2 separate regions of the Homo sapiens genome follow, and region 2 is linked to region 1. Evidence: fine-mapped expression QTL. Tissue or cell type: thyroid. Region 1 holds a variant in brackets; the other region holds the start of a gene. All regions are shown on one strand. Distances are between the middles of the regions.

Region 1 (15,169 bases):
ATACCCTCCATAGTCAGACATTAATTTAGTTGGACATATTCTTCTATATTGGCAGTTATTTTCCTTTATCCTTTTGAAGATATTTCGCTGATTACTGTCATTTATTTTTGCTTTTGCAGAATCTGCTATTGTCTACTTGTTACCGCTTGGTAGCTAACTTGTGTTTTGTCTCTGCCTGCTTTTAAGATCTCTTTTGTCTTTGTTTCGTTCTGCAGTTTCTGCTACAATGTAGCTCATTGTGGATCTATACTAATCTTCATTCCTCCTTGTCTCAAAGTAACCATATATTTAATGAATTCTTGGTAATGTATAGGCATATATCATTAAATAATGCCAATTTATAATTCTATTCTCTTTCAGAAATTTATATTAAACGTGTTGAATTTTTTGTTTGTTTTATGCTCTCTGTTTCTTAACTTTATGCCTATCCTCTTATACAACTGCATTCTAAATTGTTTCCTTAAACCTGTCTTTCAGATCATTGATTATGCTTCAACTTTGTCTGAACAGCTGTTTCACCTATCCATGGAGTTTTTGGTTCAATTGCTATAGTTTTTATTTCTAGATGATGTATTGTTTTAATACATATTTTTCTTTTCATATAGTATTTATGCCCTTTAGTCTTAGTCACTTAAAACATGTTAGATAATCTGTTCTTTTGTTCATTTATCCAAACTTCTTAGGGTCCAAAGTCCCATATTTATTGTTTCTGGTGATGCAGTTCTTCTCATGACAGATTGTTTCTGCATGAAATTTGTAATTTGGGATTATGAGCTCATCTTCAATGGGGAATACTGTATACAAATATGTAGCCAGATTGGATATAGCTAGCCCTTCAGAGACATTTTGAATTTGCTTTTAATTCATGTCCTAAGTGAATCCTTAGGCTAATTTCTTAATTCAGTTATTCCTGAACCACCCACATAGCCCTGGTTATAAATTCTGAGTGATACTGTCTCTTCCCTTCACTTGGCATCTAGATAGAAACAGATAGGCATCATTATGGTGCCCATTTATTTGGACACTTTTCACTATCCTCTTATGTCCACTACATAAGAATCTAAACCTAAGCTTCTAGGTCACTGAGACCCATTAAGTCCCCTTAATGCAGATCAATATCAGTTTGTATCTTACCACACTGCTCTTAGGTCTCTGTACCTTACACCTGGGTCTCTCTTTTTGTTTGCTTTCTCTCTTTCTCTTTTTGCAAGTCCAATAAAACACTTGAAAAAATGTCTTTTTGTCAGTTATTTCTAAGTGGTTATAGTAGGAAAGTTATCAGGTTCTTTAAGAAAAAGAAAAAGCAGAACAAGAAGTTCTACTTTGACCTTTTGACCTAAAACAAATCATATTCTCCATGCAAAACTTTCCTGCTAGCTTCTGTCCAAATGTAGACTGTCCAAAAACCAGCTTGAAAAGTATTAAACTAATGTAACCCTGAATGCCTTACAGTATAACCTTTGGGGATTTGTGTTCCTTTGGACTTTTAAAATAAATGCAGCCACAGCCTGGTGTGTTGAGAAAAGATAGGGTGGGGTTGGGGAGGGTTTATATCCTACCTTGAAAAAATTTTCAGGGAGTATATTGCAGAGAAACAGAGTATTTTCTGAAATCGTGCAAATGTCTTTTGCTTTTCCTTATTGAGAGACTAGAAGAGACTTTTTAAAAGTTATAATAAAAGTCCAAAGCCCTTTCTATCCCTGGAATCCTATGATTTTTCTACTGCCTTGAGACATGTTCCTGACAAATCCTTTTACAGCCGGTGTACAGCTTTGTAATCAAATTCTGAGTATCAAAGTAGTCCAAGATTTTCACAATGCACTCCAGTTTTTCTTTCTGCTACTCACCATAGGACCCCAGCAGCTTTACAGATATGATGGGGACTCTATTCTCTGCTGTTAATGCTTCTCAGATCTCATTGTCCACATAATTTTTATGACATGTCAAAGAGTACATTAGCAAACAAAATAATTAGTTGATTAAAAAGAATGTAAGTTATCGAATATTGTATAACATGACATATTTCACAATACCCACTGTTGGAAACTTTTATTACTTCCTTTGAACATCCTGTAATTTTGAAATGTTTTGCCCTAAAATTCTCTTTGGAAGCAACATGTTAGTAATAAGTCAGCAATAAGACACAATTGGAATAAAAACAAAGAATTCACACACATACAAAAAGAACAATATTGCAAATATTCTTCTCATACTCAATACCCAAAGTTATTTCTGAAGCCTCACCAAATTATTTTAGATTAAGTATCTACAACAAATTATTTTTTAAAATCCATCCTTTGCTGAATTTTATTCTGTGTTTGGATTGAGGCGGAGTCTGTTGTTAGCTGCATGATGAGAGCGGAGACGCTGAATCTTTTTATTTTCTTAATTAAGAATTACCATCTCAGGCCCTGGTCAGTGGTTTACAATGGCAATAATCTCTTCCAAAACAGTTGTTAGTCTGGATCCTAAGGGATTTGCCAGAACATTAACCTCAATTCGACCCCTCATGGTTGCAGGAGGAGGATGCAAGGGTCAATAATCATTTTTAGAAAATTATCAAGCCTGGGTTGCACCCTAGATTATGTAACTTGCTTTAAAAATAATGATAATGTGTTTGTCATTTTAAATAACTGGGATCAGCAAAGCTAATGAAAATGTTTAAATCCTTATCAGTTGGAATGAATAGGGCTGGCTCCAGAAAGTGCTGACTTCAACATTTTTGCGCTGCTTTTGTTGATCCTGTCTGCTGATGCACACGACCTATTGATGTGCAGCTTCGCATGCCATGGGGACTCATTCATCCATGTTAGAAGTGAAAGGGGCTTCCGGGCCTCTACATGTGCTGTGGCACATTCCTCTGGTTCTCTAACAAAGCTTTTAATTGACGTCTGTGACTAATGAGCATGAAGTCCCAGGAGAAATGGAGCACAGTCTTCTACCACCCATTAAGACGAGCTGCAAGTTCATAGTTTATCAAGCTTGAACTGGGAGCAGGCAGGGCCAAAGACTTGAGATAAATAAGAATGAATAGTTTCATTTTCTACTTTCATAAACTGGCATTAATAATTCTTAGCTAAAGTACATTGCATTTTTAGTGTTATTACCTAAGCTCTCGTAGCCAAGGCCCTCAATGGCCCTGTTAAAGGCTGCATACCTCTTTTCAAGAGAATCAGAATTAACCCTACTTCAGCTAAAGTTTAGTCGGAGTGCATTTCCCTAACAAAGAAATATTTTCCCTCTTTGTATAGGGTAGTAATCCTTTCTCACCTGAAGTCATATGGGATGAAGTAAATGCTGGAAGTGGGCCATATTGAGCTAGGCAGAAAGGTACTAACCTCCTACTATGTACAGAAAATGCTGATGCAGATAGTTCTACCCGAAGGTTTTTGTTATCTTTGTCTTTTAATTTATACTTTCAATTATGTGCCTTACTGCAGTGTAATAGAGTCATTATGTGGATTAGAGGAGAGCCAGGATGAAAAACTTATAGTCATTACCTGTTATTTATTGTATCTACTCAAGGGCATCAGAGAAATAACATCATTAGAATTAGTAAATTGCTAAAATCAGGGGTAGGAGTTATACTTACTCCCTAAGATCTTAGCATTAATGTTTGAAAGGACACTTGTAGGTCTCATTTGGTCATTGGTATATTATAGACTTCATACTTCTAAGTGGCATAAGTGAGTATAAATATATATTCAATAAATAATTCAAATGTCTTTAAAGTATATAATCATTAATTTTTAACTCTAGAACAGTTATACTTCATAATCAATAGGACTCCTGCCACTCTCATGATTAATCTTGATTTTAAACAGCCTACCATATGACTCTGCTACTGTATGACACCTCCCTACCATATGACTCTGTTATCTCTTGTCCTATATCTCTGTATCTGATCATTTCAACTAATCTATTTCAGTTACTTTATAATTGCCTCTTACCCATTCCTAGAAACTTGATGTGAATTCCCTTTCCTCCTGTCCAGTGGACCATCCACTTCTCAGTTTTTCACAGAGTTCTTTTTTTCTTTATTCTTTTTATGCCATTCCATTGACTTATTATTATTTTGATTAAGATTCATGATCTTAGGCCTCATGTGTCTCTCATGATCAAGGGCCAGATTCATGATCATAGGCTGCATGTGTCTCTGCCCACATCCCCTGTCCCGCATAACCTTTGACTTCCTGTACCCCCTTCCTCCTTTCCTAATAAGACCTTCATCCTTAGTATATGCATATTCTTCAGAAACTTGTTCACCATTTGCTTCTGCCATCTCTCACAGAAAAACCTTTTTACTCACATCCTTTCCTCCTTCAGTGTACAAGTTATAACTCAACCTTTCAATGAAAACTTCCTAGATTGGGCTATTGGGTTATTATTATTATTATTAATTTAGAGACAGAGTTTCACTCTGTCTCCCAGGCTGGAGCGCAATGGCGCAATCATAGTTCACTGCAACCTCAAGCTCCTGGGCTACTGGGTTATTTGAAGTGCTACTAGCTTCAAATGTATTATATATAACTCAAGCATCACGATTTCCTATGTAAAAACATGTGTGATTGGCATGCATTGGGCATGCCATGTTTTATTATTTTCCTGGAACCAGATTATAGGCTATTTTAAGGCAGTTATGAAGTTTCATGTCCTGTAGCATCTTTTTGTGTGCATCAATGAATCCTTACTTTGCATAATCTGTATCAAAGCAGTTAATGATGATGGTAGTATCCAACTCCATATGTAAAATGAACTAGCAAATGTATGCCTGGAATATAGAGTTGATAGAGTACTATGGAGTTCCTGCATTCTTAATTGAAAAAATGTCAAGAAATAAATATCCAGGAACTATCCCAAACAGATGTATTATTCAGCTGCTCATAAAAATCAGAATAATGCCGATTGGAATTACCTTTTCATGCACCTCATGACTCCCATATAGTAAGTTCTCAATAACTATCAAATTTACTGTGATTGGAATATGTGTTCAGTACCATATAATTCGTCACCATCATTAACTTTTCCAGCAACTTCTTTATAAAATCTCTGGCTATCTTATGGTTACCTCTAGATTTCAAAGGCCAATTGGTAGACATGACTTTAAACTGACGCCTTTTAATCTATGGGCACAAGCCTCTAACTTTCCTTGGTATACTTAAAAGATAAAAATTTAAAGTTTGTAAAGATTGGTGAGATAGTGATTACAGTTCTTCCTCCAGGGGGAATAAAAATACATATCTTTAGATTACTACATAAATGATTTAGTTAAAGAATTATTACAGCTCAGCATTACTGAATATTGAAACATACTTGTTGAAGATATGAAATCACTTTCCTTCTATTTTATTAAAAATAGCATTAACATACTGAGATCCAAGGTGGATTTGAAGACTATTTTAAACTCTTCAGACCTAGGATTTTACATTCATCCATAATAGCTCTGCTGTTCTTCGATTACGTGGTGTTTCTTTCGAGGTATTTTTAACCTGGGAACACTGAAGCAAAGATGTTCAAATTCAACCTTGGAGCTTCATCTCTTTCACCAACAACATTTACCCATCCTGTGTTATTTAAAGGCCAAATGGAACCGTTATTTTGAAAATCTGAAAAGAATGTCAGAATGAACACAATATGGAGAAAACATTTTCACAAAAATAGTGATTCCAAGTCTTGTAATTTAATATGCATGGTTGAATGAACTTATCTTTCTCCTACTCCACAAATACAGCCTACCATATCCTGAACTGCAGCCCTTTGGAAAAGAGACAAGTCTGTAAGTTAGCGTCCCATAATTATGCCCGCTGTACATCTTTATATCCCATAACAATTTTCTAATTAAAAATGAATTATTTGCCTACAGGCCCGAGAAAATGATAAAAAGAAGGAAATAATTGTTCTAGGTTTCTTTGAACTAAAAATGAAATCATTTAATCCAAAAAGAATGATGAAATGCATTTTAGTGGGGGCATGGAAACTATCATAGAAAGGAATAGATTGTGTACCTGGAAGCTGAGGAAATAAACTTTTGGCATGTTCTCTGGGGAGTTAATAAAAAGTTCCTCGAAGAATTTCCTTAGCTTGATTTTAGAAGTGTATCATTAGAGTCTAGCCCTCTGTGTTAGTAGACATAATCACCATAAACAATCTCCACGTTTCAGTGACTTCTCACTATAAAAGTGTGGTTATTACACACAGCATAGTTCAATGATGGTCCGATGAATACAGCATGAGGTTCTGCTCCATGCACTCATTCAGGGACCCAAGCTACTTATAACATATGGCTTTGCTATTTTGAGGGCCCCCACCTTCTCTGCCTGCAGTCCACCCATGGTAGAAAATCACGAAGGACTGCCTGGGAGGTCTTCTGGGTCCAGACTTGACAGTGATGTACCTCACTTCTGCCTTCATCCCATTGGCTGGAACTCAGTCACACAGTCCCACCTAACTGCAAGGGAGGCTGAAAAATGTAACCCAGCTGGCTGAAAGACGAAAAGAAAATAGGATTTGATTAACACAGAGCAGTCTGTCACATCATCAATAATTTTGAGTTGGAGTTAATAAGGTGTGTGAAAAAATAGCCCTGTGGTTGGTCCTGAATGCCAGTCGCTGTAAGAAAATACAAGACCAAGTGTGTCCATTTCAGAGAGCTATAGCTACATATTGCCTATGAGAGAACATGCTCAATTTTAGAGGCTACGAGGAATATAAGATGAATCGGACATTGTCTCTGCCCTCCGGCAGGACCCAGTCTTCTAAAGGAGCAGTTTCTCTGTAAACTGTTTTCTAGCTGTGCACCGGGATGTTAAATTGAAAATTTCTACTGAGGCTCCCAGTTCTAATAGATATGAAATTCCAAAGTGAGGTACCAGACCAAGGTGCCAATTTCCAGCGGAATATCAAGAATGGGTTCTATACATGAAACATTTGTCAGCATAAAGAGGATATATGGCCCCCAAGAGTGAAGGTTAAGAGAGGATTTCGTGAGGATAATTTCTATTTTCAAAAAGACACCGGATGAGGCTGGGGGGCTGTCTGCCGCCTCACCTAAATGCTAAGAAGACTGACTTCAACAGTACCATTTTGAGAACTTGACACATACCTCCTGGAGCTGGAAGAGGGTAGATGTGGATTGATGACTCAAACATGAGAAATCTGGAGGAAGTTACACCCTAACTGGCTAGTTATTCAGATGGCAAGAGCAAAGGAAAGTTGTTGCTGGTTGAAATCAGCCAGCAGGAGCTTGTTTCTTAGAAGAATGAGGATGCATCTAATATGGCCACTGAGAGAAAAAAAAAAAAATGGAACCTCAGGAGAGAAAACCTTTAAGTGGAGCCTAGATCCCTAGGGGCTGAGAAAGAAGCAACCAGCTGAATTCAGACTGCTTGCTTAACAAGAATGAAAAGAGTAGGAGAATCTCTGAGGAACCCGCACAAAGTAGTCTTAGAGAAAGGATCAGTGTTAAATATTGGTTAAGCTGTCATGATTCTATTAGTCAAAAAAGATCTTGGCTAGGCACGGTGTCTCATGCTATAATCTCAGCATTTTGGGAGGCTGAGACGGGTGGATCATTTGAGGTCAAGAGTTCGAGACCAACTTGGACAACATGGTGAAACCCTGTCTCTATTAAAAATACAAAAATTAGCCAAGCAGAGTTGAGTGCACCTGTAATCCCATCTACTGGGGAGGGTGAGGCAGAAGAATCACTTGAGCCCAGGAGGCAGAGGTTGCAGTGAGCCAAGACTGCACTATTACACTCCAGCCTGGGCGACAGAGCGAGACTGTGTCTCAAAAAAAAAAAAAAAAATGTCTTGCCTATTCCTCTTATCTCTCTTCTTTACTTCAACCCTGGGGATGGAAGCTGATCAAAACAGCAACTAGTGAGTGAAGGAGAATGGACATAGACAGAAAGAGACAGCCAAACATATTCTTTATATTGAAGACACCCATTTGCCTGTGGGCAGCCATGGCTGTAAAATGATGAAATGTTAGCTTTCAGTGATGATTCAGGTGCTAATGAATATTGGGCTGGACATCCATCCTAATTTCTGAAATCAGACTGTGTTTTGTAACCTACTGTGAAAATAGAACTTTTTCTTAACTAGGAGTGGTCAGAAAATAGTAGTTTTCATCAGAGGCAGGAGAAAGAGCTAACCAACCCCTTGGATCAGGCTTAGAGGAACAATGACAGGCAAAAGCAACATTCTTTTATGACTCTTGCTGACACAGCTGATTTGTACAATATGATGTTTGCCTTTGAATTCTGGGAAAGTGCTCCAGGAGAAGTACAAATAAAGTACTCTGGGAGGTGAAATAGAC[G/A]TCATTTGCTTCTAGCTAGAGTACAAGGGTGTTTAAGGAAGGGCTTCATGGAGATGAAGGTGTATGCACCAGACCTTAAAGATAAAGGGATTTAGATGTGCAGAGATTTGGGATGGGCTAGTGGAGGAGAGGTGGCTGATGGTGCATTGTTAAGGGCATTTTAGCAGAGCAAACATAAAAAGGTAAGGAGACAGAAAAACATAGCAGATGCAGGTAGGAGAGCAATTAGTTCCATTTGGCTGAAGCCAAGCATGGGGCAATAATTAAAATTAAGGTAGAAAGTGTTGGCTTCCAGCTTGGGCAAAAGCATAAGATATGCTTGAAACCTCAGCAGGTTGTCTGCACAAAAGGCAAGGTATCTGGGACTAGGTAATAAGGGCAAAAGGAGAACCTTGTAGTTGCGCTGACCTTCACAGTAGGTAGTCAGATGTCTAGTTTACAGTATCCATAGTGTCCATGGAGGTATTGGGTATTAATTAATTTATTTTTTAGAGGCAAAATCTCACTCTGTTCTCCAAGCTGGAGTGCAGTAGCATGATCAGAGCTCACTGCAGCCTCGAACCCCTGGGCTCAAGCGATCCTCCTATCTTAGCCTCCCAAGTAGCTGGGACTATAGGCACAAGCCACCACACCTAGCTAATCTTTTTTATATATTTTGTAGAGACAGGGTCTCACTGTGTTGCCCAAGCTGATCTCGAACTCCTAACCTCAACCCATCCTCTGGCTTCAGCTTCCCAAAGTTCTGGGATTACAGGTGTGAGCTACCACGCCCAGCTGAGGCATTAATTTTTATCTAATTGATATCCAAGCAGGCTGATGTGATAGGTTAGGTGTGAAAACAAGGAAGTGTAAGCAGTGGGATGATAAATTCAGTAAGTTGTGCTTGAAGGTAGTACCCTCAGCTTGGAGTAAGTTTGGGAGTCAAATTTCTATAGATAGGAGAAGTTCCTTTTCTGACAGGCAGCTCCTACATTCTGTGACCTCCAACAAGTAATTTGACTTCCCTGAACTCCTGTTTCTTCATCTGTAAGGTGGTAATAATAACATATAATAAAACAATCCACACACTCCCTTCTCTTTCCTCCAAGAGGAGAAGGAGGATGGAGATTCCAAGCAGCGGGCTGCCACACCAGTGATGGTCCCCGTCTCAGCAAGGGATCTGGAGGAAAAATCAGGAAGATGAGACAGATGTTCTGTTTCATGAACAGAATGAGTGGAAGTTGGGGGAAGACTTTAAGTCAGTGAGTTTTAGCTCCCGTAAATACCAAGCTTACATCAAGAAGCACCCACCCTCTGCCAGTTCCGTCTCTGCTTGCCTCCGCTGGGATTGGCGTGGGGACTGGGCGGGGCTGAGTTTGCAGGTTCCCAGTCCTCTGTGTCTAAAGTGCTCAGGGAGGCAGAAATAAAATGGATAATGGGGAGGAGACATGCCAGCCAAAAGGGCTTGAATGTTATTCCGGTGTGATCACAGGTTTTTAAGGAGGACAGAGCTAGAGGAGGGGAGAGAGCTGACACCTGACATATCGGTCCATGCAGCGTGGAGAGGAGATGGCAAGGTGAGCAAGGGGTGGGACATTCAAGTTAGATGAAACAGCACAGACCTAGGCCTGAAGGCAGAAAGGATTGGCAAGACGCAGGAGACAGGGACTGTAGTCCCAGCTCTGCTGCGAAGCTTTCTGAGTTGTGGTTTCTCCGTGTATCAAATAGGTTCTAAGTGACACCTCACTTATTTAGAGGCTGCAATTTGAAATCTCATCTATCCAAAATTCAGGCAGACATATAAGTAAGTAAAAACTGTCTCTGGGCATTCTGTATAGGTATTACAACTTTCATGCTGAAAACAGGAGACAGAACTTTTCTCCAGCTTCTTCTTCAATAGCTACATACCTAGTTTGGAGACAATTTTAACATTTGACATTCTAATTACTCTTCCCAGAGAAGTGAAGATTTTGCAAAGAAAGAGGGGTATTAGAGTATGAGATTCAGGCATGAGAGAAGGGCCCACTCTAAGGAGGAGATAAAAGGAAGCAAAGGAATTATTTTCAAAATAGCAATATGGATCCATTCGGCATCGGTACAAAGAATATCCACATCTCTGTATGCTCTGGAGGTCTATGCATATTTGTGCTATAGTTTCCGGCATCTTCAAACATAATGAGTAATTGATGCTTGCAAAGATACTTCTGAGTCATCAAAAAATGGATAAATTATATCCAGAAGTCTCGATTTCTAAAGAGGAAGGGGAGGGGAGTGGAATTTTTTAAATTCTAGTTGAGATTATTAGATTTTTTAAACTAGGGATTTTTGAGAGGATAAATTTTCATTAAGTGAACATTTATTTATTCAGTGCTTATCTTTTATAAGTTATTCTTACTATGATAATGGGACTATAAAATATGAAGGCTACTTTAAAAGAGAGAGAGAGAGAGAGATACACCGGAACGCGGTCAAATGACTAGTCATCTTCGAGGGTAGAAACTTACACTGATGATCCCACCTTTGCTGAAAATATTTTTATGATTTGTATTGACTGTCTACATAACCTTTTTTGTGAGTTTATAGTCATGCAAAGCAACAGCCTCCTGACTTTAGAATCTCACCTGGATATTTACAAGGAAAACCTCCATCTCCAATAACAACATATTTTGAGTCTGGTTCTTCGAGGAAACATTGACTGAGCATTTAACTAGCCCTTTGCAGTAAGAGGGAGGTTCTGCGTGGTCCTTGAAATTCACTCAGAGTGTAGCTGAATTGTCCACGTTATTCACAAGGCTTGTTCTTTTTAGCTGTTTACAAAAGCATTAAGCCTACCCTAAAGGTCAAGATGTTGCTAACATTGAGAAGATTTTTGTTTAATATACAATATACTCTGGCATCAGGGTCCAAAGTAGAGAATCAAAGGTGGCTTGAAAGATGACGGTGTCATTAAAATAAGGTAACTCTTTTGAAGGGATAGCACTCATTTAATACGTAAATTCTGACATATTCATGTAAAAACATGCATCATGTGGAATCACATTTGAGAGGACATTGGCAACTATTAATCCCTGTACAAAAGTAAAAGAATTGTTGACATCATCATCATATTGGAGACTACCTACATGTCAAAAGGCTGCAGAAAGGCAGGTTTGCCTTCACTGCTGTTGGCAAGACCCATAGTTCCCCCTGCCCCAGGCAGCCACGTGTGGTGATGACTGAATCCTGCAGAGACCCAATGACTGCAAGTAGGCATGCTCTCACCTGCTCCAAGCCAAATGCCAGTTTTGCAGCAGGGCATCCCTAGGCCCCCAGGAGATTGCTGTCTTCTTGGTGATCAGAGCAGAGATTGACACTTTGCAGGCATTTTCTGCTGCTGCACCAACACTCTTTGGAAGTTCTCACATTTGAGCAAAACTGCTATTCTTGAGATGTCTAGCACCACTAATGTGGGCCAAGAATCAAAACGTTTGCCCAGACTTTGTTTTAAATTGTTGACCTGAGTTCAATTTTTAAGCAAGGAGTTTTTAAAATAGAGTAGAATCATATTATTACATAAAATGTGACATGCCATTTGTAACTCTGCTAGGGTATACCAAGCCTGAACTTGAAAACAATAAAGACACTGCGTTTTATTTGGAAGGTTTTATTATCAAAAATATCCTATTCATTCTAAAAAGTATGAAGTGCTAATGCTTAGGTATCTGTTTATTCCCTTATTAAGCTGATGTCATGACATCTTAGTAAAAACACTTCTTTTCTATGCATGCTCTTAAAAAACAAGGGTTTAGGTGGACATGTGAGTTCATATTTAATTCTTCCAAATGCACAAAAGAATTTTGTTGGGATATTTTTTGTTGCAAAGGATGGTTGTTTTTCTTTAACTTATTTTAAAATATAAAAATAATGTATTTTTAATGTAGATTTGAAAAATGCAGAAAAATAGAAATTAAGAAAAATGAAAGATAAACACTATGAACGTATAGTAGCATAAGGTTCTTTCCAACCTTAGTATTATGCGTAGTTTTCTTCTGGACTTTTGGTTTACAGTATTTGGTTGAATTTGGGAGGTTTTTGCTTTTTGGTTTTGTTTTAGAGGCAGGGTCTTTCTCTGTCACTCAGGCTGGAGTGCCATGGTGCAGTCATGGCTAACTGCAACCTCGAACTGCCAGGCTCAAGCGATCCCCCTTATCTCAGCCTCCCAAGTAACTGGGACTACAGGTGCACACCACCACACCTGGGTGGTTTATGTTTTAGAGATGGAGTCTGACTGTGTTTCCCAGGCTGGTCTTGAACTCCTGGATTCAGCAATCCTCCTGTTTCAGCCTCCCAGAGTGCTGTGATTACAGGCATGAGCCACTGAGCTGGCCTGTATATATTTTTTCACATACTTGCAATTATTATGTATATGATTAGACTTTTTTCATTAGATTATGTGTTTTTATGTTATTGTAAGCTATTTGTAGACACAGTTTTATTGATGATACAGTTTTCTATAAAATGGATATTATATAATCGACTTAGTTAATTTCCTGTGGTTTTAAATTTAGATTTCTTCCATTCATTAACCAAAAAAAAAAAAACCACTCCAATGAACATTTATATATCACCACTTCCCCCTATCTGGAATTAATTTTTTGACATACAGTCTCAGAAATGTTACTGATCAAAATTGTAATTACATTCTTAAGAATCTTCACACACATCCTGAACCCAGTGTCTAAAATGTTTTTTGTTTTGCTTTTTAACCATTTTACAGTTTTATATCAAAGACTTCAGTGTCGTGAGATTTTATCACTTTTTAAAGCTCATGTGACATTATGGTGTAGCTTCAATGTGCTTTTTAAAATGTTGAATTTTTGTGTCTAATTTTTTAATAAGGAAAGAAATATATGTATGTCCTTTACATAGGCTCTGAATGTTTTCTTAAAATTGATGTGATCACTGTATTAATAATAGTAAACCTTTGTCATATTTGGGTGTACATTTTTCCCAAAAGATTTTGGCTTTTTCATTTTATTTTAGTTTTCTGTATAATTATTTGTATCTTTTAAAGAGCAAAATATATTGATTGCTGTTATCACTTTTAAGCTTAGGAATTCCTTTAGAGATTTAATATTTACTTCTACTTCCCTAGTTTATTGAATGTTCCCATTTTTAATATATATATTTGGAATTTGGTTTAGGTATATGCTATAACATATAATTATACATACTCTAACTAGCTAAATAATTATTCCAAAACAATTTACTTTTGTCCATATTGGTGTGTGGTACTTTTTTTGAGTATATATTGATTTCTCATATATTGTAGATTCTGTTTTGAAATTATCTATGTTGTCTCGATCATCTATATGTCTTTCTGTATCAGTGCCAAAATATTCTAATTATTATACCTTTCTATTATATCTCAATATTTGTTAGAGTTTGCCTGCTTCATTCTTACTCTTTTCAATCATGTTTTCAATTGATCATCTTTGAGTAAGGGCACAAGTTTGATGGTCTACCCAGTCTAATATACTGGGCCTTCCACGAATTTACTATGTGATATTGAACAACTTACATAATTTATTTTGGCCTTAATTTTCCTATCTGTGAAATGGAGATGGTCATAATAATATCCATTTTATAGGTTTATTATGAAGATCATCTGATTTAATATATACAGTAGTCCCCACTTATCCATGGGGAATACATTCTAAGACCCCCAGTGAATGCCTGAAACTACAGATAGTACCAAGTCCTATATATACTATGTTTTTTCCTATACTATGTTTTTATACCTATGATAAAGTTTAATTTTTAAATTTGGCACAGTAAGTGATTGATAACAATAACTAGTAGTAAAGTCAAGCAAATATAACAATATACTGTTCACAATTTTATGAATAGATTTGTTCTTCCCATAGATCTTGGCAACCTCAGCATACTTTTTTTTTTTCCCCCTTATCAAATTGAGAACTTTCGCCTTTTCACCTAAAGAAATCACTTTATGGCAATGGGCCGGGCACAGTGGCTCACACCTGTAATCCCAGCACTTTGGGAGGCCGAGGCGGGTGGATCACGAGGTCAGGAGATGGATACCATCCTGGCTAACACAGTGAAACCCCGTCTCTACTAAAAATACAAAAAAATTAGCTGGGCAAGGTGGCAGGCGCCTGTAGTCCCAGCTACTCAGGAGGCTGAGGCAGGAGAATGGCATGAACCCGGGAGGCGGAGGTTGCAGTGAGCCGAAATCGTGCCACTGTACTCCAGCCTGGGCAACAGAGGAAGACTCTGTCTCAAAAAAAAAAAAAAAAAGAAATCACTTTATGGCTTCTTTTTGGCATATCCAAATTGTCAGCAACACTTTTCCTGCCCTTTAGGGCCAGTATGAAGTAAAATAAGCTTGAACCCAAGCACTATGGTACCTATACATGACAGTCGATCTGATAACCCAGACAGCTCCTAAGTGACTGTGGGTGGGTAACTTAGGGTAGATCCTCTGGACAAAGGGATGATTCTTGTCCTGGGTGGAATGAAGCAGGACTGTATGAGATTTCATCACACCACTCAGAATGGCATGCACTTTAAAACTTAGGAATCGTTTATTTCTAGAATTTTCCATTTAATATTTTTGAACTGAGGTTAATTGAAACATCGGAAAGCAAAATTGCAGATAAGGTGGGGCTGCTGTATATAAATTATCTAAAGGCCGTGCTTGACATACCTTTAGTGGTTGCGAACGTTACCTCTTATTAGAATTTGCAAATAGTGATCCTATTGTCTCCTTTGCAATCATTATATCTCACTTCTGTGTCATGTCTTATTGCATTGTCAACAGTGTCTAAAACAATATTAAATAATAATTATGGTGCAAGTCCTGTTCTGGATA
Region 2 (15,169 bases), 74 kb after region 1:
GGTTGCTGTCACTTTTTTCATTATTTTTTAATTTTTTTTTTTTTTTAAGAGATGGGGCCTCGCTGTTTCCTAGGCTAGAGTGCAGTGGAGCTATCAGCTCACTGCACTCTCAAACTCCCGGGCTTCCGGCTAATTTTCTGAAAATATTTTTGTAAAGATGAGGTCTCGCTGTGTTGCCTGGGCTGGCCTCAAACTTCTGGGCTGAAGTGATCCTCCCACCTCAGCCTCCCATGTAGCTAAGACTACAGACAAGAGTCACCAAGCCACCATGCCACTGAGCCACTGTGCCACTGCACCACCTGGCTATGCTTGCTGTCTTTGTGCACCTCAGCTTTCGCCTGCCATACTGCCTGCATCTGGGGTGACCAACTCAACCCAGTTTTCCTGGGACTTTTCCAGTTTCAGCACCAGGCCACACCCAAAGTCATAGGTGAACTGGGATGTTTGGTGACGCCACCTGTATCCCTTCGCTATATATTTCATATTCGAATTCTGTAAAGGAGAAGAGGGGAAATCTGACTGGATCTCTTTGTCCCTTGTCCAACCCGGGGAGCATCTGAGCTCTTCCAGCTGAGCCTACTGATTGCACCAGTCAAGCTTGGGGGTGATGAAAGGAAGCATCCCCAGCTGCCTTTCTCAGAAGGGGCCTGTGAGCAGAGTGAGCCTGGGAATATCATCAGGTCCTGTAGTCCATTTTCCACACCAGTTTGTATCAGTGCTGCTGCTGAACATGTTGGGTGAAGGTATGTGCAGATGAGAGGTGGCAGTAGGGGGCAAGCAGAAACAATTTTAAAAATCATTGCAGCAGCTGGGTGCCATGGCTCACACCTGTAATTCTGGCACTTTAGGGGGCTGAGGTGGGTAGATCACCTGAGGTCAGGCGTTCGAGACCAGTCTGGCCAACATGGTGAAACCCTGTCTCTACCAAAAATACAAAAATTAGCCAGACGTGGCGGCACGCACCTGTAATCCCAGCTACCACGGAGGATGAGGCAGGAGAATTGCTTGAACCCAGGAGGCGGAGGTTGCAGTGAGCCAAGTTCCCAAGACTGTGCTCCAGCTTGGGTGACAGAGCAAAACTCCATCTCAAAAAACAAAAAAATTCGTTGCACCTTTTTTACTTTTATGAACTCAAGCGTTACACAAATTAGGCTCCTAATATAGTGTTATGGAAACCCTGGCCCAACCAGTCATTAAATATTTTATCCCACTCAATATTGTCCAGTTCAGAGATTGTAAATTTTGCAAAAGGGAGTGTTTACAAAGCAAAACGATGTCATCTGGGAAATGAAGAATGTTAAGCTCTAGCAGCCCTGGGGAGAAACACAAAATGCACTTCGGCTTAGGGCAGAGAAGCTTAGCCATCAATACTTTGTAAATCCTGGAGGGCTTCCTCTACCTCCTGCATGCCAGCACCCCCTCTACCCACTTGGCTCCAGAAATTAGTCCTTCTGTATTAAAACTGTTTTTCCATCTGCAAGGAACAGAAGTCCCCACCCTGCCCTACCCCGCCTCTGCTTCCGCCCCACCTTCAATTCTGTGGACTGAGGTGGGGAGAGAAAAATAAAATCACTGTAAAAATACTTAACTTCTGAAGCACGTGACTGGCTTTCAAGAATTCTATAAACTCGAGGGTGAGGCACTTGAAGAAGTTGGAGGCATGGCTCAGGGCAAAGCAGGGGCTACAGTGAGCCCTTTGAGTCTCTGGACACCCCTCTCGAGCGCCCCCAACCTCCTGATCACCCCTGATCCTCCTATCCAGCACCCCATTCCCAATTCTTCCTGGTGTTCTGAGACCCCCGAGGGAGTGCAGGCTGCACGCAGGCAGGCGGCCCAGCCCCGGGTGCTGGGTGACCCCCTCAGCTCCAGGTGTGGCTGCAGGACTGTCAGCCTCCCGGGGGTGACATGGAAAGGTGAATGTATTTGCACTGCGCCTTTCATTCTGTAACATCTGTGTCTCTGTTTCTCTTAAAGCCTATGGCCATCACTCAACCGGAGGCTGAGAACTGATGAAAAAGTGGAACAAAAACAAAATAAAACTAGCTGCGTTGTTGAAACAAAGTCAATTTCAGTGTTTATTTGGCAGAGAAGCCAGTAGAGGTGATCAAAGTGATCAGGGCAATTCACTTGTTTCGCTGGCCCTGGGAGGGAAGGTGAGGAGCTCTGAATTCCAAAGGTAGGGGGAGAGGAGAGCAAAGCTCAGGGGAGAGAGCGGTCAGGAAACTCCCTGGGCACAGGCAATCCCTGCCAGGACTCCAAGACACCAGTCACAGGCTTCTCCTTCTCCTGCATCAGGGTGACCTGCAGGGCCCTGTTCTCGGAGCCTCCACCCTCCACCCTGGGCTGCACCACGGCCCCCAAGCCTTCATGAGCACCGTTGCCCAAAGGCTGTGCTCTGGTTGCACCCTTGCTCCCAAGCTCCCCTCACAGGCGCTTTCCCCTATCCTAGCAGCTCCACGTCTCCTCTGCTCTGAGGGTGGTTTCCATCTTTGGCCTCATCCTCCTGGAAGCCCTGCCCCCCAGGGAGGTCCCTGGCATCACAGTCTTAGCTTACAGACTAGAGGTCTCAGTGACTAGAGCAGGCGCCCAGCTGCAGGGAGACTTTGATAAATATCTATGGCCGAACTGCATGATGCCTTAGGGCTCTTACAGCAATGCCCCCCAAATAATACCAGACCCAATTCTATAGTTGAAAGAAGAGGAATTTTAGAAAATAGGTATACCGGGCCAGGGGCAGTGGCTCATGACAGTAATCTCAACACTTTGTGAGGCCAGGGCTGGAGGATTGTTTGAGCCCAGGAGTTCAAGACCAGCCTGAGCAACATAGTGAGACCTAATGTCTACAAAAAAATATAAAATTAGCCAGGCATGGTGGAGTGTGCCTGTAGTCCCAGCTACTTGGGAGGCTGAGGGTAGAGGATTGATTGAGCCCAAGAAGTTGAAGCAGTGAGCTGTGATCATACCACTGCAATCTAGCCTGGGTGGTGGAGTAAAAACTTGTCAAAAAAAAAAAAAAGAAAGAAGAAGAAGAGAGATACCTCCCCTTTTATTCTTCATTTCCATCTAGCAAAATAATAAAAATAATATTGATGATTGAGGGGTCGCCTTGGACAATTGCCTTGGACTTCAGTAGTGAAAAAAGAGGATAAAAGATCCTAAGGTATTCATCAAGTATAACAGAGCAAAGGCTGAACAGGACCCTGGAGACGAGAAAGATGGGAGAGATGAGAGCCACACGTTCGAGAATGCTCCAGGAGTCAGTTTGTTCAGCAGCAAAGTTGGGGGATGTTGGTGGGGGAAACAGGGAGAAGTGTACTCCATGATCCTAGTTTTGGCAACTTGATTGGTTCCCCTTCCTTCTTGCTCCCCCTACCCCCCAACCCCCACCTCCACAGGTCACTGCAGCTTTGAGAAATGGCAGAGGAGAAGCTCAAGGGCAGAAAATAAGCCAGGAGAGTCTCTTTCCCCCAAATACTCTATTGAAAGGGTTGATAATGAGGCACTGTGGGTAAAGCAAGGTAGCAACCCAGGTGCTTGTATCTGTAGAAGCTCTCATATTCTCGTGGATTCCACCCTGGCCCTTCAGGAACTCTGGGAAATATGCCATGGTTTTGCTCCCTCTGGGATAAAAGGGGTGAGCAGATACATGTTACACTTTTCACTTATAAGTTGCCACCTGGAATCCAGACTTTGTCTGCAGTGACCAGAGGGCAGAGCTGAGCGGGGCTTTCAAGACGGTATGCTGCACAGATGCCAGCTCTGGCCACAGTGCTGTGCACACGGGGTCTTTGCTGCCCAGCATCTATCTTCCAACTTAAAATAGATAAAAGAAACCATAATAAAAACCAACATCAATGGGTTCTCTTAAAAAGAAAGCAAATATGCTTAAAGTATTAACACATTGGATCTATGTGTAGTTTCACATCATATGACCACATGAGGAATTTGTGTGGAGTAGCAGGAGAGTTCCAAGACATTTCATAGGGAGATTTGAGTGTTGGTGGGTGGCGAGGGGCTCCTGGGCACCTCACTTATTGTCTGGCAGGATCTCCTTGGAGCCACTGGAATTTTAAGGACTTTAAGTAAGGGAAGATTGGTTACCCTCTGGAGAGAATGCTGGAGGTTACCTGGTGAAATTGTTGCTCTTAACGCAGAAGGGAAAATTCTGTTTTGATCTATGAGTCATATAGAAATGTATTATACTATGGAATCTGCGAAATTGTTTGTTAGTGGGGCTTGTAATACGGTCCGTGTGAGGCTCACACCTTTGCTCTAATTATTGTTTAAGATTAATTATTTTTTAATTATTGTTTCAGATTCTTTTATAGGGTCTTTGTTGGGAAACTCAAACAGTATCATTATGTTCCCCTCACATTTGGAAACCTAAGGCGCCCAGAGGGCTTATCTTGGGATCACACATAGGTGGCCATCTGTGCTGGTTTGCCAGGGACAGTCGTGGTGTCTTATTGTCCAGTTGTAATTATTAATAGTGTCTACTTTCCCTCTCACAAATGCTGGTTTATACTAAGTATAAGGTCACCCTAACCACCTGACACATTGCTGTCAAAACTAGGATTGGAGAGCCCACATTTCACATGCGCCAGATCATCCATTTAAGCAAATGTTATCCCAGTTGTTAAAAATCCTTTATTTCTGACTTACAGGGCCTCATACCATAGCAGCCTGTCTTTTAGAAACAGTTAATGTGGAACACATCAAACACGAGGCCTCTGGTTGAAACACTTTTGTTGACTTCTTTGTTTTTCACTTTGTTTTAATTGACTCTCACAGTTATGAATGCCTTTGAAAAGTACATTTTAAGGACTTCAGCAAGCATTAATTATTTCTTTTGTGTCCTGATGTCAAGTCATTTTCAACTATCTGGTTCTTAATAGGATTTAAAGTGAAAAAATATTAAATATGTATCAGGGCAATTCCACTTACTCTTGGTTCTTGCAATGATTTCTCTGTTGAAAAACTTACATAGGCCAGGCACAGTGGCTCACGCCTGTAATCCCAGCGTGATTACTTTGGGAAGCCAAGGTGGGCGAATTACCTGCGGTCAGGAGTTCGAGACCAGCCTGGCCAATGTGGTGAAACCCCGTCTCTACTAAAAATACAAAAAAAAAAAAAAAAAAAAAAAAAAGCCAGGCGTGGTGGCACATGCCTGTAATCCCAGCTACTCAGGATGCTGAAGCGGGACAATTGCTTGAACCCTCGAGGCAGAGGTTGCAGTGAGCCGAGATCGCGCCATTGCACTCCAGCCTGGGCGACAAGAGCAAAACTCCGTCTCAAAAAAAAGGAAAAAATGCCGGGCGCGGTGGCTCATGCTTGTAGTCCCAGCACTTTGGGAGCCCGAGGCAGGCAGATCACAAAGTCAGGAGATCGAGACCATTCTGACTAACACGGTGAAACCCCATCTCTACTAAAAATACAAAAAGTTAGCTGGGCGTGGTGGCATGTGCCTGTAGTCCCAGCTACTTGGGAGGCTGAGGCAGGAGAATCACCTGAACCCAGAAGGTGGAGGTTGCAGTGAGCCGAGATCATGCCACTGCACTCCAGCCTGGGTGACAGAGCAAGATGCTGTCTCAAAAAAAAAAAGGAAAGAAGGAAAAAAGGAAAAATTTACATGAAGGAAGTTGACATGCTTTCCACAACCCTATAATTGGCCTGCTGAGAAATCATATGCAATTGTTTACGATTTTTGTGATTAATTCTCTTTATGGTGAATGCCATTTACGTTGCGTTATCAACACCAATAATGGTCCAGTTCTGTAACGGGTTAGCTATGACTGCAAAATCACCATTTGTCTTTACAGCACTCTTTTATCTCGTCACTTGTCTTTCCTTTTAAATGACATTTGTTTTATGTGGTAGCTCATTTTGAGTCATGAATTGCAACATATGGAACCACTAACCAAGAAATAGTCTTGCACCTTTCCCTGTTAACAGAAACGGAGTTGAAAACTTAGCCTCCTGGTATTATTATTATTCTAGTTCTTTATATGACTGGAGGAAAATCAGATTTCAAGTTCTTCCCGCTTTCCTTATGCCTTTCACAGCAAATTTCAAAGTATAGCAGTAGGCAGATTGCAATGTAATAGCAATTTTTAAGCCCAGAAATTAAATTAAACCAGAAAGAAATACACCTACTTCTAGTTCAAATAGTGTTTCTTCCAGAAAGAAGAACATCTCCACAGTAACAGCAGTGACAATAAGAGTATTTTCATGAAGATCGGAGTTACCAGGTTTATATAGATTGCAGAATACAGCTACTGTTTTCCAGAGACACTGACAATCAGTGCTAAATTGTTAGGAAGGTCTCTGTGCTTTGGAGAAAGATATGGAATAGTCGGTGCAAGGGCAAATAGAGTGCCTTCTCAAATTGTTTTCAGTTCCTCTTCTTAAGGAGGAACAAAAGGCCAGTAAGTAATCCAATAGAAGCTTTTCCCTATAGAATGGTCAGAAAGTTTGATCATTCAAAAGAACATTATTTTACCATAAATACATGTCTAGGTTTCATGATCCTTAATGATTCATGTTAATTCTCTTCCCCCAATGCCTTTTTCTGTTGTGCATATCACAGAGTTTTGTTTCCTGGAATATCAGCAGAGAGGGCAGTGGGCTTGGCCCGTATGGGGGAGGGGAGGGTCCTAGCAGCTGGAAAGCAAGGTCGGCTGACCAAGGGGGTTCCTTGGGCTGCCTGGAAAATGGTAGTTCAGACCTGGTGGGAGACATTTCCCTATTTTTGTCCATCTAGGGGTCAACAGAGGCCTGAAAGACTGCTCTGACACCTTCCAAACAGCCCCCAGGAAATCTTAATCAGCATCTGCCAATGGATCTTTTCTGCCTGGGTTGAGCTAGCCAGGAGGGCCCTGGGGCAGGGTGCTGTTTGTGGCTGCCAACGGCTGTGGCAGCCCTCTGCTGCCTCCTTCATCCTGGGGTTTTTGCCTTTGTGCTACACCAAATGACAGGTAGGAGCTGTTAAGCACGGGCTCTCTGGACACCAGAGCAAGGGGATTGGGGTCACAACCAAAGGCTGCGGGACATCTGATTTGGGCTGCTGCATCTCCTGCTACAGTGTTTCTCTCTCTCTCTCTCACACACACACACACACACACACACACACACACATACTTTTCTCCCACCCTCCTCCCCACTCTTCCTAGCATTAATACTTTAAAGACAAATACACAACAGTATACAAGAATCAGGATGATCTGGACCTGAAAGGCTGAACACAGCAGGGCCCTCCTTCATGAACATTTTGCACCTAAGGAAATAATAAGGTTAAAACTAGATTCATCTGGCCTTTGCCCAGGGGCCACCAGGACAGAAACTGTGTAAGATTAGTTCCTCCTTAAAGCAAGATTGCCAGGTAATTCTGTTGCAAAGTCATAGAGACCTTAAGTTATCTGCCCTGCAAATCCCACTGCCTCTATTCAGGCTGCCGAGGCACTGCTTTAATTTTTTGAAAGATTCACCGCGTCTTCTTGGATTTCAAGAAAAATCCCGTTAAGAATTGAGGGGCTCTCTTCTTCCCCTCCTGACGTGAGTGTAACTCACTTCCTGGTATGTCTCCTTTCCTTTTGGCCTACATCCTTTGTCTGTTAGGTGCTTCCACATCCTTATGTCTTAAATGGCCAAAATACGTCACCCCCACTGCCAAAACACACAGGTCACTCGAGGTCACAATCTGGAACATAGGCTGGCCATTGTTCAGCACACATTCTTGATCTAAATCAATCTCAAACCTTGCTGGAATGCCCTGTAAACTGGGGCAAAGTATGGTCACCAGACTAACCATTGTCCTTTTTTACCCCTCCTGTGACGGGGCTACTACAGGTTACAAAATCGCGCTCTTCCTCCTAGCTACTGTGTTACTCTGAGATATCTGACATCGCAGAGCTAATGTTGCCTAAATTATTTTCCCATCCTCTTTTTTTTTTTTTTTTCGGACATCATGCCTCCTATTTTCACTCTCTGGGAACTCTGCCAGTTTTTCAAGGACTGGGTAAAGAACAAAATAAATATTTGTAGGTGGTTTAAAAGGAGAAGTATGTTGGTTGTAACTCTGCCTGTCCAAAGAAATGCATTTTCACTGTCTTTCAGATTTTTGGAGTCGTTAACTGGGAGAGCTTCAGAAGATTGACTTTACTAGTTTACCTTTCAGATTTGTGATTAAGGGCTGGGTGTGTGTGTGTGTGTGTGTGTGTGTGTAAGTGTGTTGGGGGAGGGAGGAGTCTGAGAAAGTGAGCAAGTACGTAGAAACTTTTTTTTAAAAAGTCCAGATTAAGTGATTGAAATCGACTGTGTGCAAATGACGCTATACCTCTTCATAGATGTTAATCGGGCCCTAAAAAGTTAGTGCCGGAAAGTGCTTACTTACAACACTCAGCATATACTCTTTCTTTCAAATTGTTTGGGATTTTTTTTTAAGGGAGTTCACTGAAATTTGGGAGGTTCAACAGGTTGCTGTTTTTTAATATGTGGATCACCCGATTTGGGAGGCTCACTCTGCCTCTGAGATTAAAGAGATGAGGGCACTGGCTCCCAGCGAAGGCTCTCGGCCTTAATCATGTGTGAAATGTTTTCCTTCCTCGGCTGCAGAGCCTCGGTGGTTTGCAGCAGTGGAACCAGGCAGGCCCAGTTGTGGGTAGGAGAGGCCGTCACCTGTTGAGGCCTCCCCCCCACACCCCCGCATCGCCCTGCCCTGGCAGAGCCCAGCCCCCAGTCCCCGGAGAGCGCGCCTGAGGACGGACGGACGGACGGACGGACAGACCTAGGGACGGAGGGCCAGGGGCAGGGGAGATCCAAGAGGCCCCGCGCTGGAATGCAGTTTTCTCGGGCGAGGGAGACTTTGCACCGGAGTGGAAAATAGTTTGGGGTGGGGTTTCGCACCGTCCCCTCCTCCCCAGCCCCGGGCCCCCTCCCAGGCGCTTTCTGGGAGCTTTTAGAACTGCGCTCTGAAGTTTCCAGAGAGCGAGGAGCTTTTGCGGCAGGCAGAGACAATGGAAGAAAATGAAAGCCAGAAATGTGAGCCGTGCCTTCCTTACTCAGCAGACAGAAGACAGATGCAGGGTAAGTAACAGACCCATTCAAAGATGGAGTTACAGGGACGCGTGCCCCTTGCCGCTTGCTGCTTTTTATAAACTGCAGCTCTGGGACCCGGCAAAGGAAAAAAAAAAAAAAGGCAATTTCTTGGGATGGTACATTTTCCAAACTGAGTAGAGCATAGAGAACTGTGATTTCTTAGGCTTGACTTTATCTCTGGCACGATTTTCTTAAGCAGCAAAAGAGGTGGTGGGGTGATGTCACATTTGTAGTGCAGTGAGCCATCAGCATGAGCTGTATCTCTAAGCAATGACAAATAAATCACTAAGCAGCTTTTAATCATTTCCCCCCGGGGCTCCAGCCACGGGAGAAAGGAGCTGTTTTTGTGAAACTGTCTCTAGGACCGCAGCTTCCATTCATTGGTTGGGGGATTCCATGTGGCAGATGCATGCTGGCTGCAAAGTTTGTGCAGAATTTTAGAGTTAAATCACAGAAACCAGGCATGTTTTATTTTACAGATCCGAGCAGCAGGGGAGGGCTTGAGCATCTGGGTGATAGATAGAACTCTGGATCTTCTTTTATGTTTTAATTCAAAACTTGGGAGTTGTTGGACAATTTTGGTAAATTTTCTCCAGGCAGTTTCCCTTTAATTGTGTTTATAATAGACTTGTCTTTTCCGTAGGGAATTTCCAGAAGCTTATGTTGTTCCAAAGAAATTTCGCACCGGGTTGGGTGGCCAGAGGAGGTCCCTGCTCTCTGGCATCTGATGCCTGTGATGCCAAGAGCTGATTCTGTGGGATCCTATAGGCAGCATGTTCATAAACCACACAGCCCTGGACCACCCGCCCCACCCTCCCTCAGGTTCATGCAGGGGCCAGTACACAACAAAAAGACGTGCGGGAGTGCAGTGCTGTGCGTGGGAGTAGGGATTATGCACAGGGGAAAAGGTGTGTGTTTTATGAAAATGTGAAAGGGAAGTAACACATGACTCATCCACGCTGAAAATGCAAAGCTAAGCCAGTCAGGAGAACTTACAATGACAAGAGATAGAAATCCCCCAGTGAAATGCAGAAAACTTGAAGTTTTGTAATGGCTGGAGAATCCCTGAGTCTGAACAGTCATCTGTCGAAGTGTCTGCCTTCGTGCTGCCAAAGCACAGCACTCTCCTTCAGGCTACCGGGGTCAGTGGCATCCAGTGGAAGATAAGGCTACCTCGTCCCCCTGACCCCCGCAACCCCCCACCCCCATTTTCTAGGACAGGATCCTACTTCAGGAATTCAACCTCTGGGCCTGTCCTGAAAGAGATGACTCAGATTCTAGAGGGGCCATTAGAAAGGGATCCATTTAAGAAATGACTTTCCAACAATCAGGGCAATTCAGAGGCTTCAGAGGCTAGGATGGTCAGCCTGAGACAGTGTGCTCCTTTGCTCACTAATTCATTCATTCAGTGAATATTGAGCATCTGTTATGTAGACGTCACTGTTTTAGCTGCCAGACATCCAGTGGTGAACAAAGCAGACTAAAAATACTTGCCTTCATTTAACTTCCAGTGTAAGGACCAAGTTTCAGGGGGTGGGGAGCTGGTAGAGACAGACAATGAACAAATAAATAAAATATATAGCATGTTAGATGGCACGGCTGCTGGATTTAGCAAATAAAAATACAGGAGGCCCAGCTAAATTTGAATTTCAGGTAAACGGTGAATTTTTTTTTTTTTAGTATAAGTATATCCCATGCCATATTTGGGATATACTTATGTTAAAAATACTTCTCCATTATTTATGTAAAGTGCACATTTAACTGAGCAGTCCTGTATCTTATCTGGCAACCCTATTTGATGGAAATAAGGTTACAGAGAAAAATAAAGCAGGAAAAGGAATAAGGAGTGAAACTGTAAATAGGATTATTAGAAAGAGCTTCGCTGAAGTGATATTTGAACAAAGACAGGAGAGGTAACAGCAGGGATGTAATGTTTTCAAAGAACAGCAAGAACATGGGAGAAGGATGGGAGGAAAAGAGATTGAGAGGTAATCCCAGGCCAGATCACCTAGGGCCCATGAAACCATTGTAAGGACTAGAGCTTTTATTTTGAAAGAGGTGGGAATCTCCTGGCAGGTGGGACTACTTTTTTTTTTTTTTTTTTTTTTTTTTTTTAGAGAGGGTCTCATTTGTCACCCAGACTGGAGTGCAGTGGTGTGATCATAGCTCACTGCAGCCTTGAACTCTTGGGCTCAAGCAATCCTCTGGCCTTAGCTTCCAAATAGCTGGGACTACTGGGACATGCCACCATGCATGGTTGTATTGTATTGTATTGTATTGTATTGTATTGTATTGTATTGTATTGTATTGTATTGTATTTTATTTTATTTTAGAGAAGGGGTCTTGCTATGTTGCCCAGGTGAGTTACAAAGGGATTTGTCTTTTTAAATGGGGTAATACTGGGTGCTGTATTGAGCACAATCCAAGTAGGGTTGAGGGAAGGGCAGGGAGGCCTTTAGGAAGCTTCTGCAGTCAAGGAGGCAAGAACCAGGGCTAGCTTGGACCAGGCGGTGATTAGCAGGCGGTGATAAGCCAGCAGATTCTAGGTGTATATTGAAGGTAATGCCCAAAGCATTTCCTGTAGCCTGGGCAGCATAGTGAGACCCCATCTCTAGAAAAAAAAATTTAGCTAGGCATAGTGCCCTGTAGTCCCAGCTACTTGGGAGGCTGAGGCAGGAGGATCACTTCAGCCAGGAGGTTGAGACTGCAGTTAGCCATGATTACACCACTGCACTCTAGCCTGGGTAACAGTGTAAGATTCTGAAAGAAAGAGAGAGAGAAAGACAGAGAGAAAGAGAAGGAAGGAAAAAGAAAAAAGAAAAAAAAAGAAGAGAGAGGAGGGGAGGAGAGGAGAGGAAAAAAGAAAAGACAAACAAGACAAGACAAAAGCAATTGCTAAAGGATTCAACTTGGGATGTAAGAGAAAAAGAGGAGTCAGAGACAACTTCCAAAATTTTGGTGTAAGCTGCTGGGAGAACGGAGTTGCCATTTGCCTAAGTTGGGGAGTATTTACGAAGAACAGATGAGAGGGTGTTTATGGTTTGAGGTTCTGAGGAGCAATCTTTTGATAGATTAGGATTGAGAAGTTTATCAGGTATCCAAGTGGAGATGTTGACTACAATTTGGATATTAATCACTAGAGCTGAAGGAAGACTGAGAACTGAGAGATCCCCTAAGATTGAATCTGTGTGCAGAAGAAAAAGTCCAAAGGATGCCCCCCGAGGCAGTCCAGCATCTAGAGGTCAGGGAGATTGGAAGGAAGGGCTGGAAAAAATAGCAAAAGTGGAATAAAAATCCAAATTAGATTTTTAAAATCCTGTTCAGTTCTGGGTGAATATGATGCTGTAGAGAAGCATGGCTTCATTTTTAGTTCTCCCGGTGAGCACGAGTGCCGCAAGGGAGAGCAACATCTCTGATGCTAACATCACCCATAACGTTCATTTCTATCATTGCATTCTCTCTTGTGTCTGCCTGTGTATCTGTTTTACCCAATGACAATGTGATATTCCACAGCAAGGACCATGTTTTATTTATTCACGTTTGCATTTCCAGCACCTAACAGAGCACTGGGCAACCTAACAGAGCACTCACTGGGCACTGTAGAAGGCACTCAATAATCATTTGTTGAATGAAAGGCTAATTTTACCACTTTGGGACTTTGAGTTTATTATCCTGCTATAGATAAGGATCCCTAGGGTGATCATGTAACTTACTGTCCAAATGAGATCCTTTTGAAAGTGAAAGGGAACACTCAAATAATTTTACTGGGACAACAGTTGTAACCCAGAGCTGTTTTGGCAAACTGGGGTATATGATCACCCTAAGAATAGCTCTAATCAATGAAGCTTCCATGGCTGAATAGCCCGGCTACCAGGTAAATAACAATGGGGAAGTGTAGCGCATAGTGTGCTTTGCGGAGTAGGCACTCAACAATTATTGGTGGAACATGAATCTAACTGTATCATATTCTCTTTGAAGCCCATGGGCTCTACATTGTGACCCTGGGGCATAGGCATTCCTTGGGATGACTCTGTCCACAGCAGTCCTGACGTGTGTGCTTTTGCTCTGGTTCCTAAGGTCTTGAAACCTCTATGCAAGTGAAGTGCTATTAGCCCACCTGCTTGCCTTCCCCACTGTCTGATTGGCAGCCTCCCATCGAGTGCAAGCCTGGGGAATCAGATATGCAGAAGCCTCCTCTAAAACAGCCCCCTCAGTCTCTGTACCCTTATCCCGTTTCATTCTTCAAAGCACTTACCGTTACATGACATTTAGAGTCTATATGATTTGTTTGTGGTTGGCCTATTTCAAATGTGGACTCCTCTATGAGGGCATTAAGTCTGACTTGATCTACTTCACACTGTATCTCCTAACTCCTTTCAGTGTGGGAGCAGGCAGTCAATAAATATTTGTATGAATGAATGAATGAATCAATCAGTGCTTGACACAGAATGCTTTTCTGGGAAGAGGAGCTCCTGTCTCTATTTTGTCTAAGATCTATACCAGAAATCCTCTTCATCACTGGTAAAATTTTAAGGTACTATAGAGGAATATAATGACCTGGTTTCAGCTGTAATTTCTGTGCTGATTTGTATATATATTATGATAGTAACAAGGGAGCTAACCCCATCACTTTGGGATGCTGAGGCAGGAGGATCACTTGAGGCCAGGAGTTCTAGACCACCCTGGGCAACATAGTGAGACCCCATCTCTACAAAAAAAAATGTTTTTAAAGTAGCCATGCATGGTGACTATGCACCTGTAGTCCCAGCCACTCCAGATTCTGAGGCAGGAGGATCACTTGAGCCCAGGAGTTTGAGGCTGCAGTGAGCCATGATTGCATGACTGCATTCCAACCTAGGTGACAGAGCAAGACCCTGTTTCTAAAAACAAACAAAGAAAAAAAACAAGGGAGCTTGAAAACTGAGGGATGCTGTAGGATTCTGCGGCCTGCTAACCGATTATGTGTATTAATCAGATAGGCTAATTGTTGTAACCACCCTCTAATCTTGGTGGCTTTGCATGATTAAGGTTAATTGTTCACTCAGACACAGCACAGTGTGATTTCTGTGGCCAGGTGGATTTCCTGGGTGGCCGATGAGGCTCCTCCTGCCTTGTCACTATGGCATCCCCCACGGCGTTGGAGGGTTCTGCTGGATCCTTTGTATTCAACTGGCCAAAGAGTAAAGAGAGAGAGAACGTGGAAGGTTATTTGGGAGGTCTAGGGGCCCCAACAAAAGGTGGCCCACATGGCTTCTGCCCACAATACATTGACTGGAATTAGTACAAGGACCCAGTGAGATGGAGATGGCTGGAAAATGTGGTCTTCCTCTGTGTGCAGCAGAAGAGCGTTCTGGTCGAACACATAGGGCTGTCTCTGCCACGGTACACCCAGAGAGGTTGTACAACCAGACCAAACAGCAACTCCCTATGATGCTCCCTATGACAAGAGAGCTTCTCAGCACAATTGAGAAGGAGACAGCTAACCAGAAGCCACTAGAAAGAAGTGAGGGATGCCTTCCCTAAGAGTCTGTGGCCTACCTAATCTTGACCCAGGAATAGGATCTCAGGGAAGCCATCAGCACTGTTGCTGGCTCTGGAGCAGGTGTGGAATGCCTGAGTGGTGCAAGGCCCCAAATCCCTTGCTGCAGGTCAGCTGACCCAGCCAGAGTAACCCGAGTTGTGGCAAAGAAGCTGGCCTTGGCAGCGCCTGCAGTTGCCTGCCTGCCGGACTTGCAGTGCGGCTTTCTCCTTGAGGAGGCCCCATCTTCCATGAGCCTCTGCGTGTTTGGTGTCTGCCCCAGCCCCTACTTTCTATGCTTTCTTTCCAGAATGCCAAATCCTAGCCTGGGAGCTCCTTGGATTCCTGAAGAGTGTCCCTTTAGCATTTCTGCCTGCCTTGTCCTCACTTCTCCAGGGAATGTTCCAGGGATTTTGCTCGGCTTTAAGCTCCTATGTTGCTCTTTGCCCTGCTTGAAGTGAGCTCCCAGGAGGAGTTGCCCTGGGCTCTGCAGAGGCTGGGAGGGGCAGGAAAGGGAAACAGGACTGCCTTTCAGCAAGCCCAAGCCTTGCCTTCATG

Direction of the effects. Alleles are on the strand shown, and positions count from the first base shown. SD is a standard deviation of normalised expression in the study named.
For the expression in thyroid of the gene that starts at base 8,956 in region 2, A is the low allele of the variant in region 1 and G is the other (moderate effect, 0.64 SD a copy in GTEx).

What was found. PIP is the estimated chance that this variant, and not a neighbour inherited with it, causes the effect.
Region 2: it holds the start of KIAA1217, and the variant in region 1 is fine-mapped to the expression of KIAA1217 in thyroid (GTEx, PIP above 0.99).

The regions. Positions count from the first base shown.
Region 1 is chr10:24,125,782-24,140,950 of GRCh38, forward strand. It overlaps a transcript of KIAA1217 not described here. Among named protein-coding and RNA genes, the nearest start is that of KIAA1217, 76 kb to the right of the region's middle. The variant G/A (reference allele first, on the strand shown) is at 8,320.
Region 2 is chr10:24,200,183-24,215,351 of GRCh38, forward strand. It overlaps KIAA1217, which reads left to right and starts at 8,956. Exons shown (of 21, transcript NM_019590.5): 1 at 8,956-9,081. The coding sequence starts at 9,012. RefSeq lists enhancers at 2,060-2,825, 9,142-10,341, 9,715-9,774, 14,227-14,815 and a silencer at 9,375-9,424.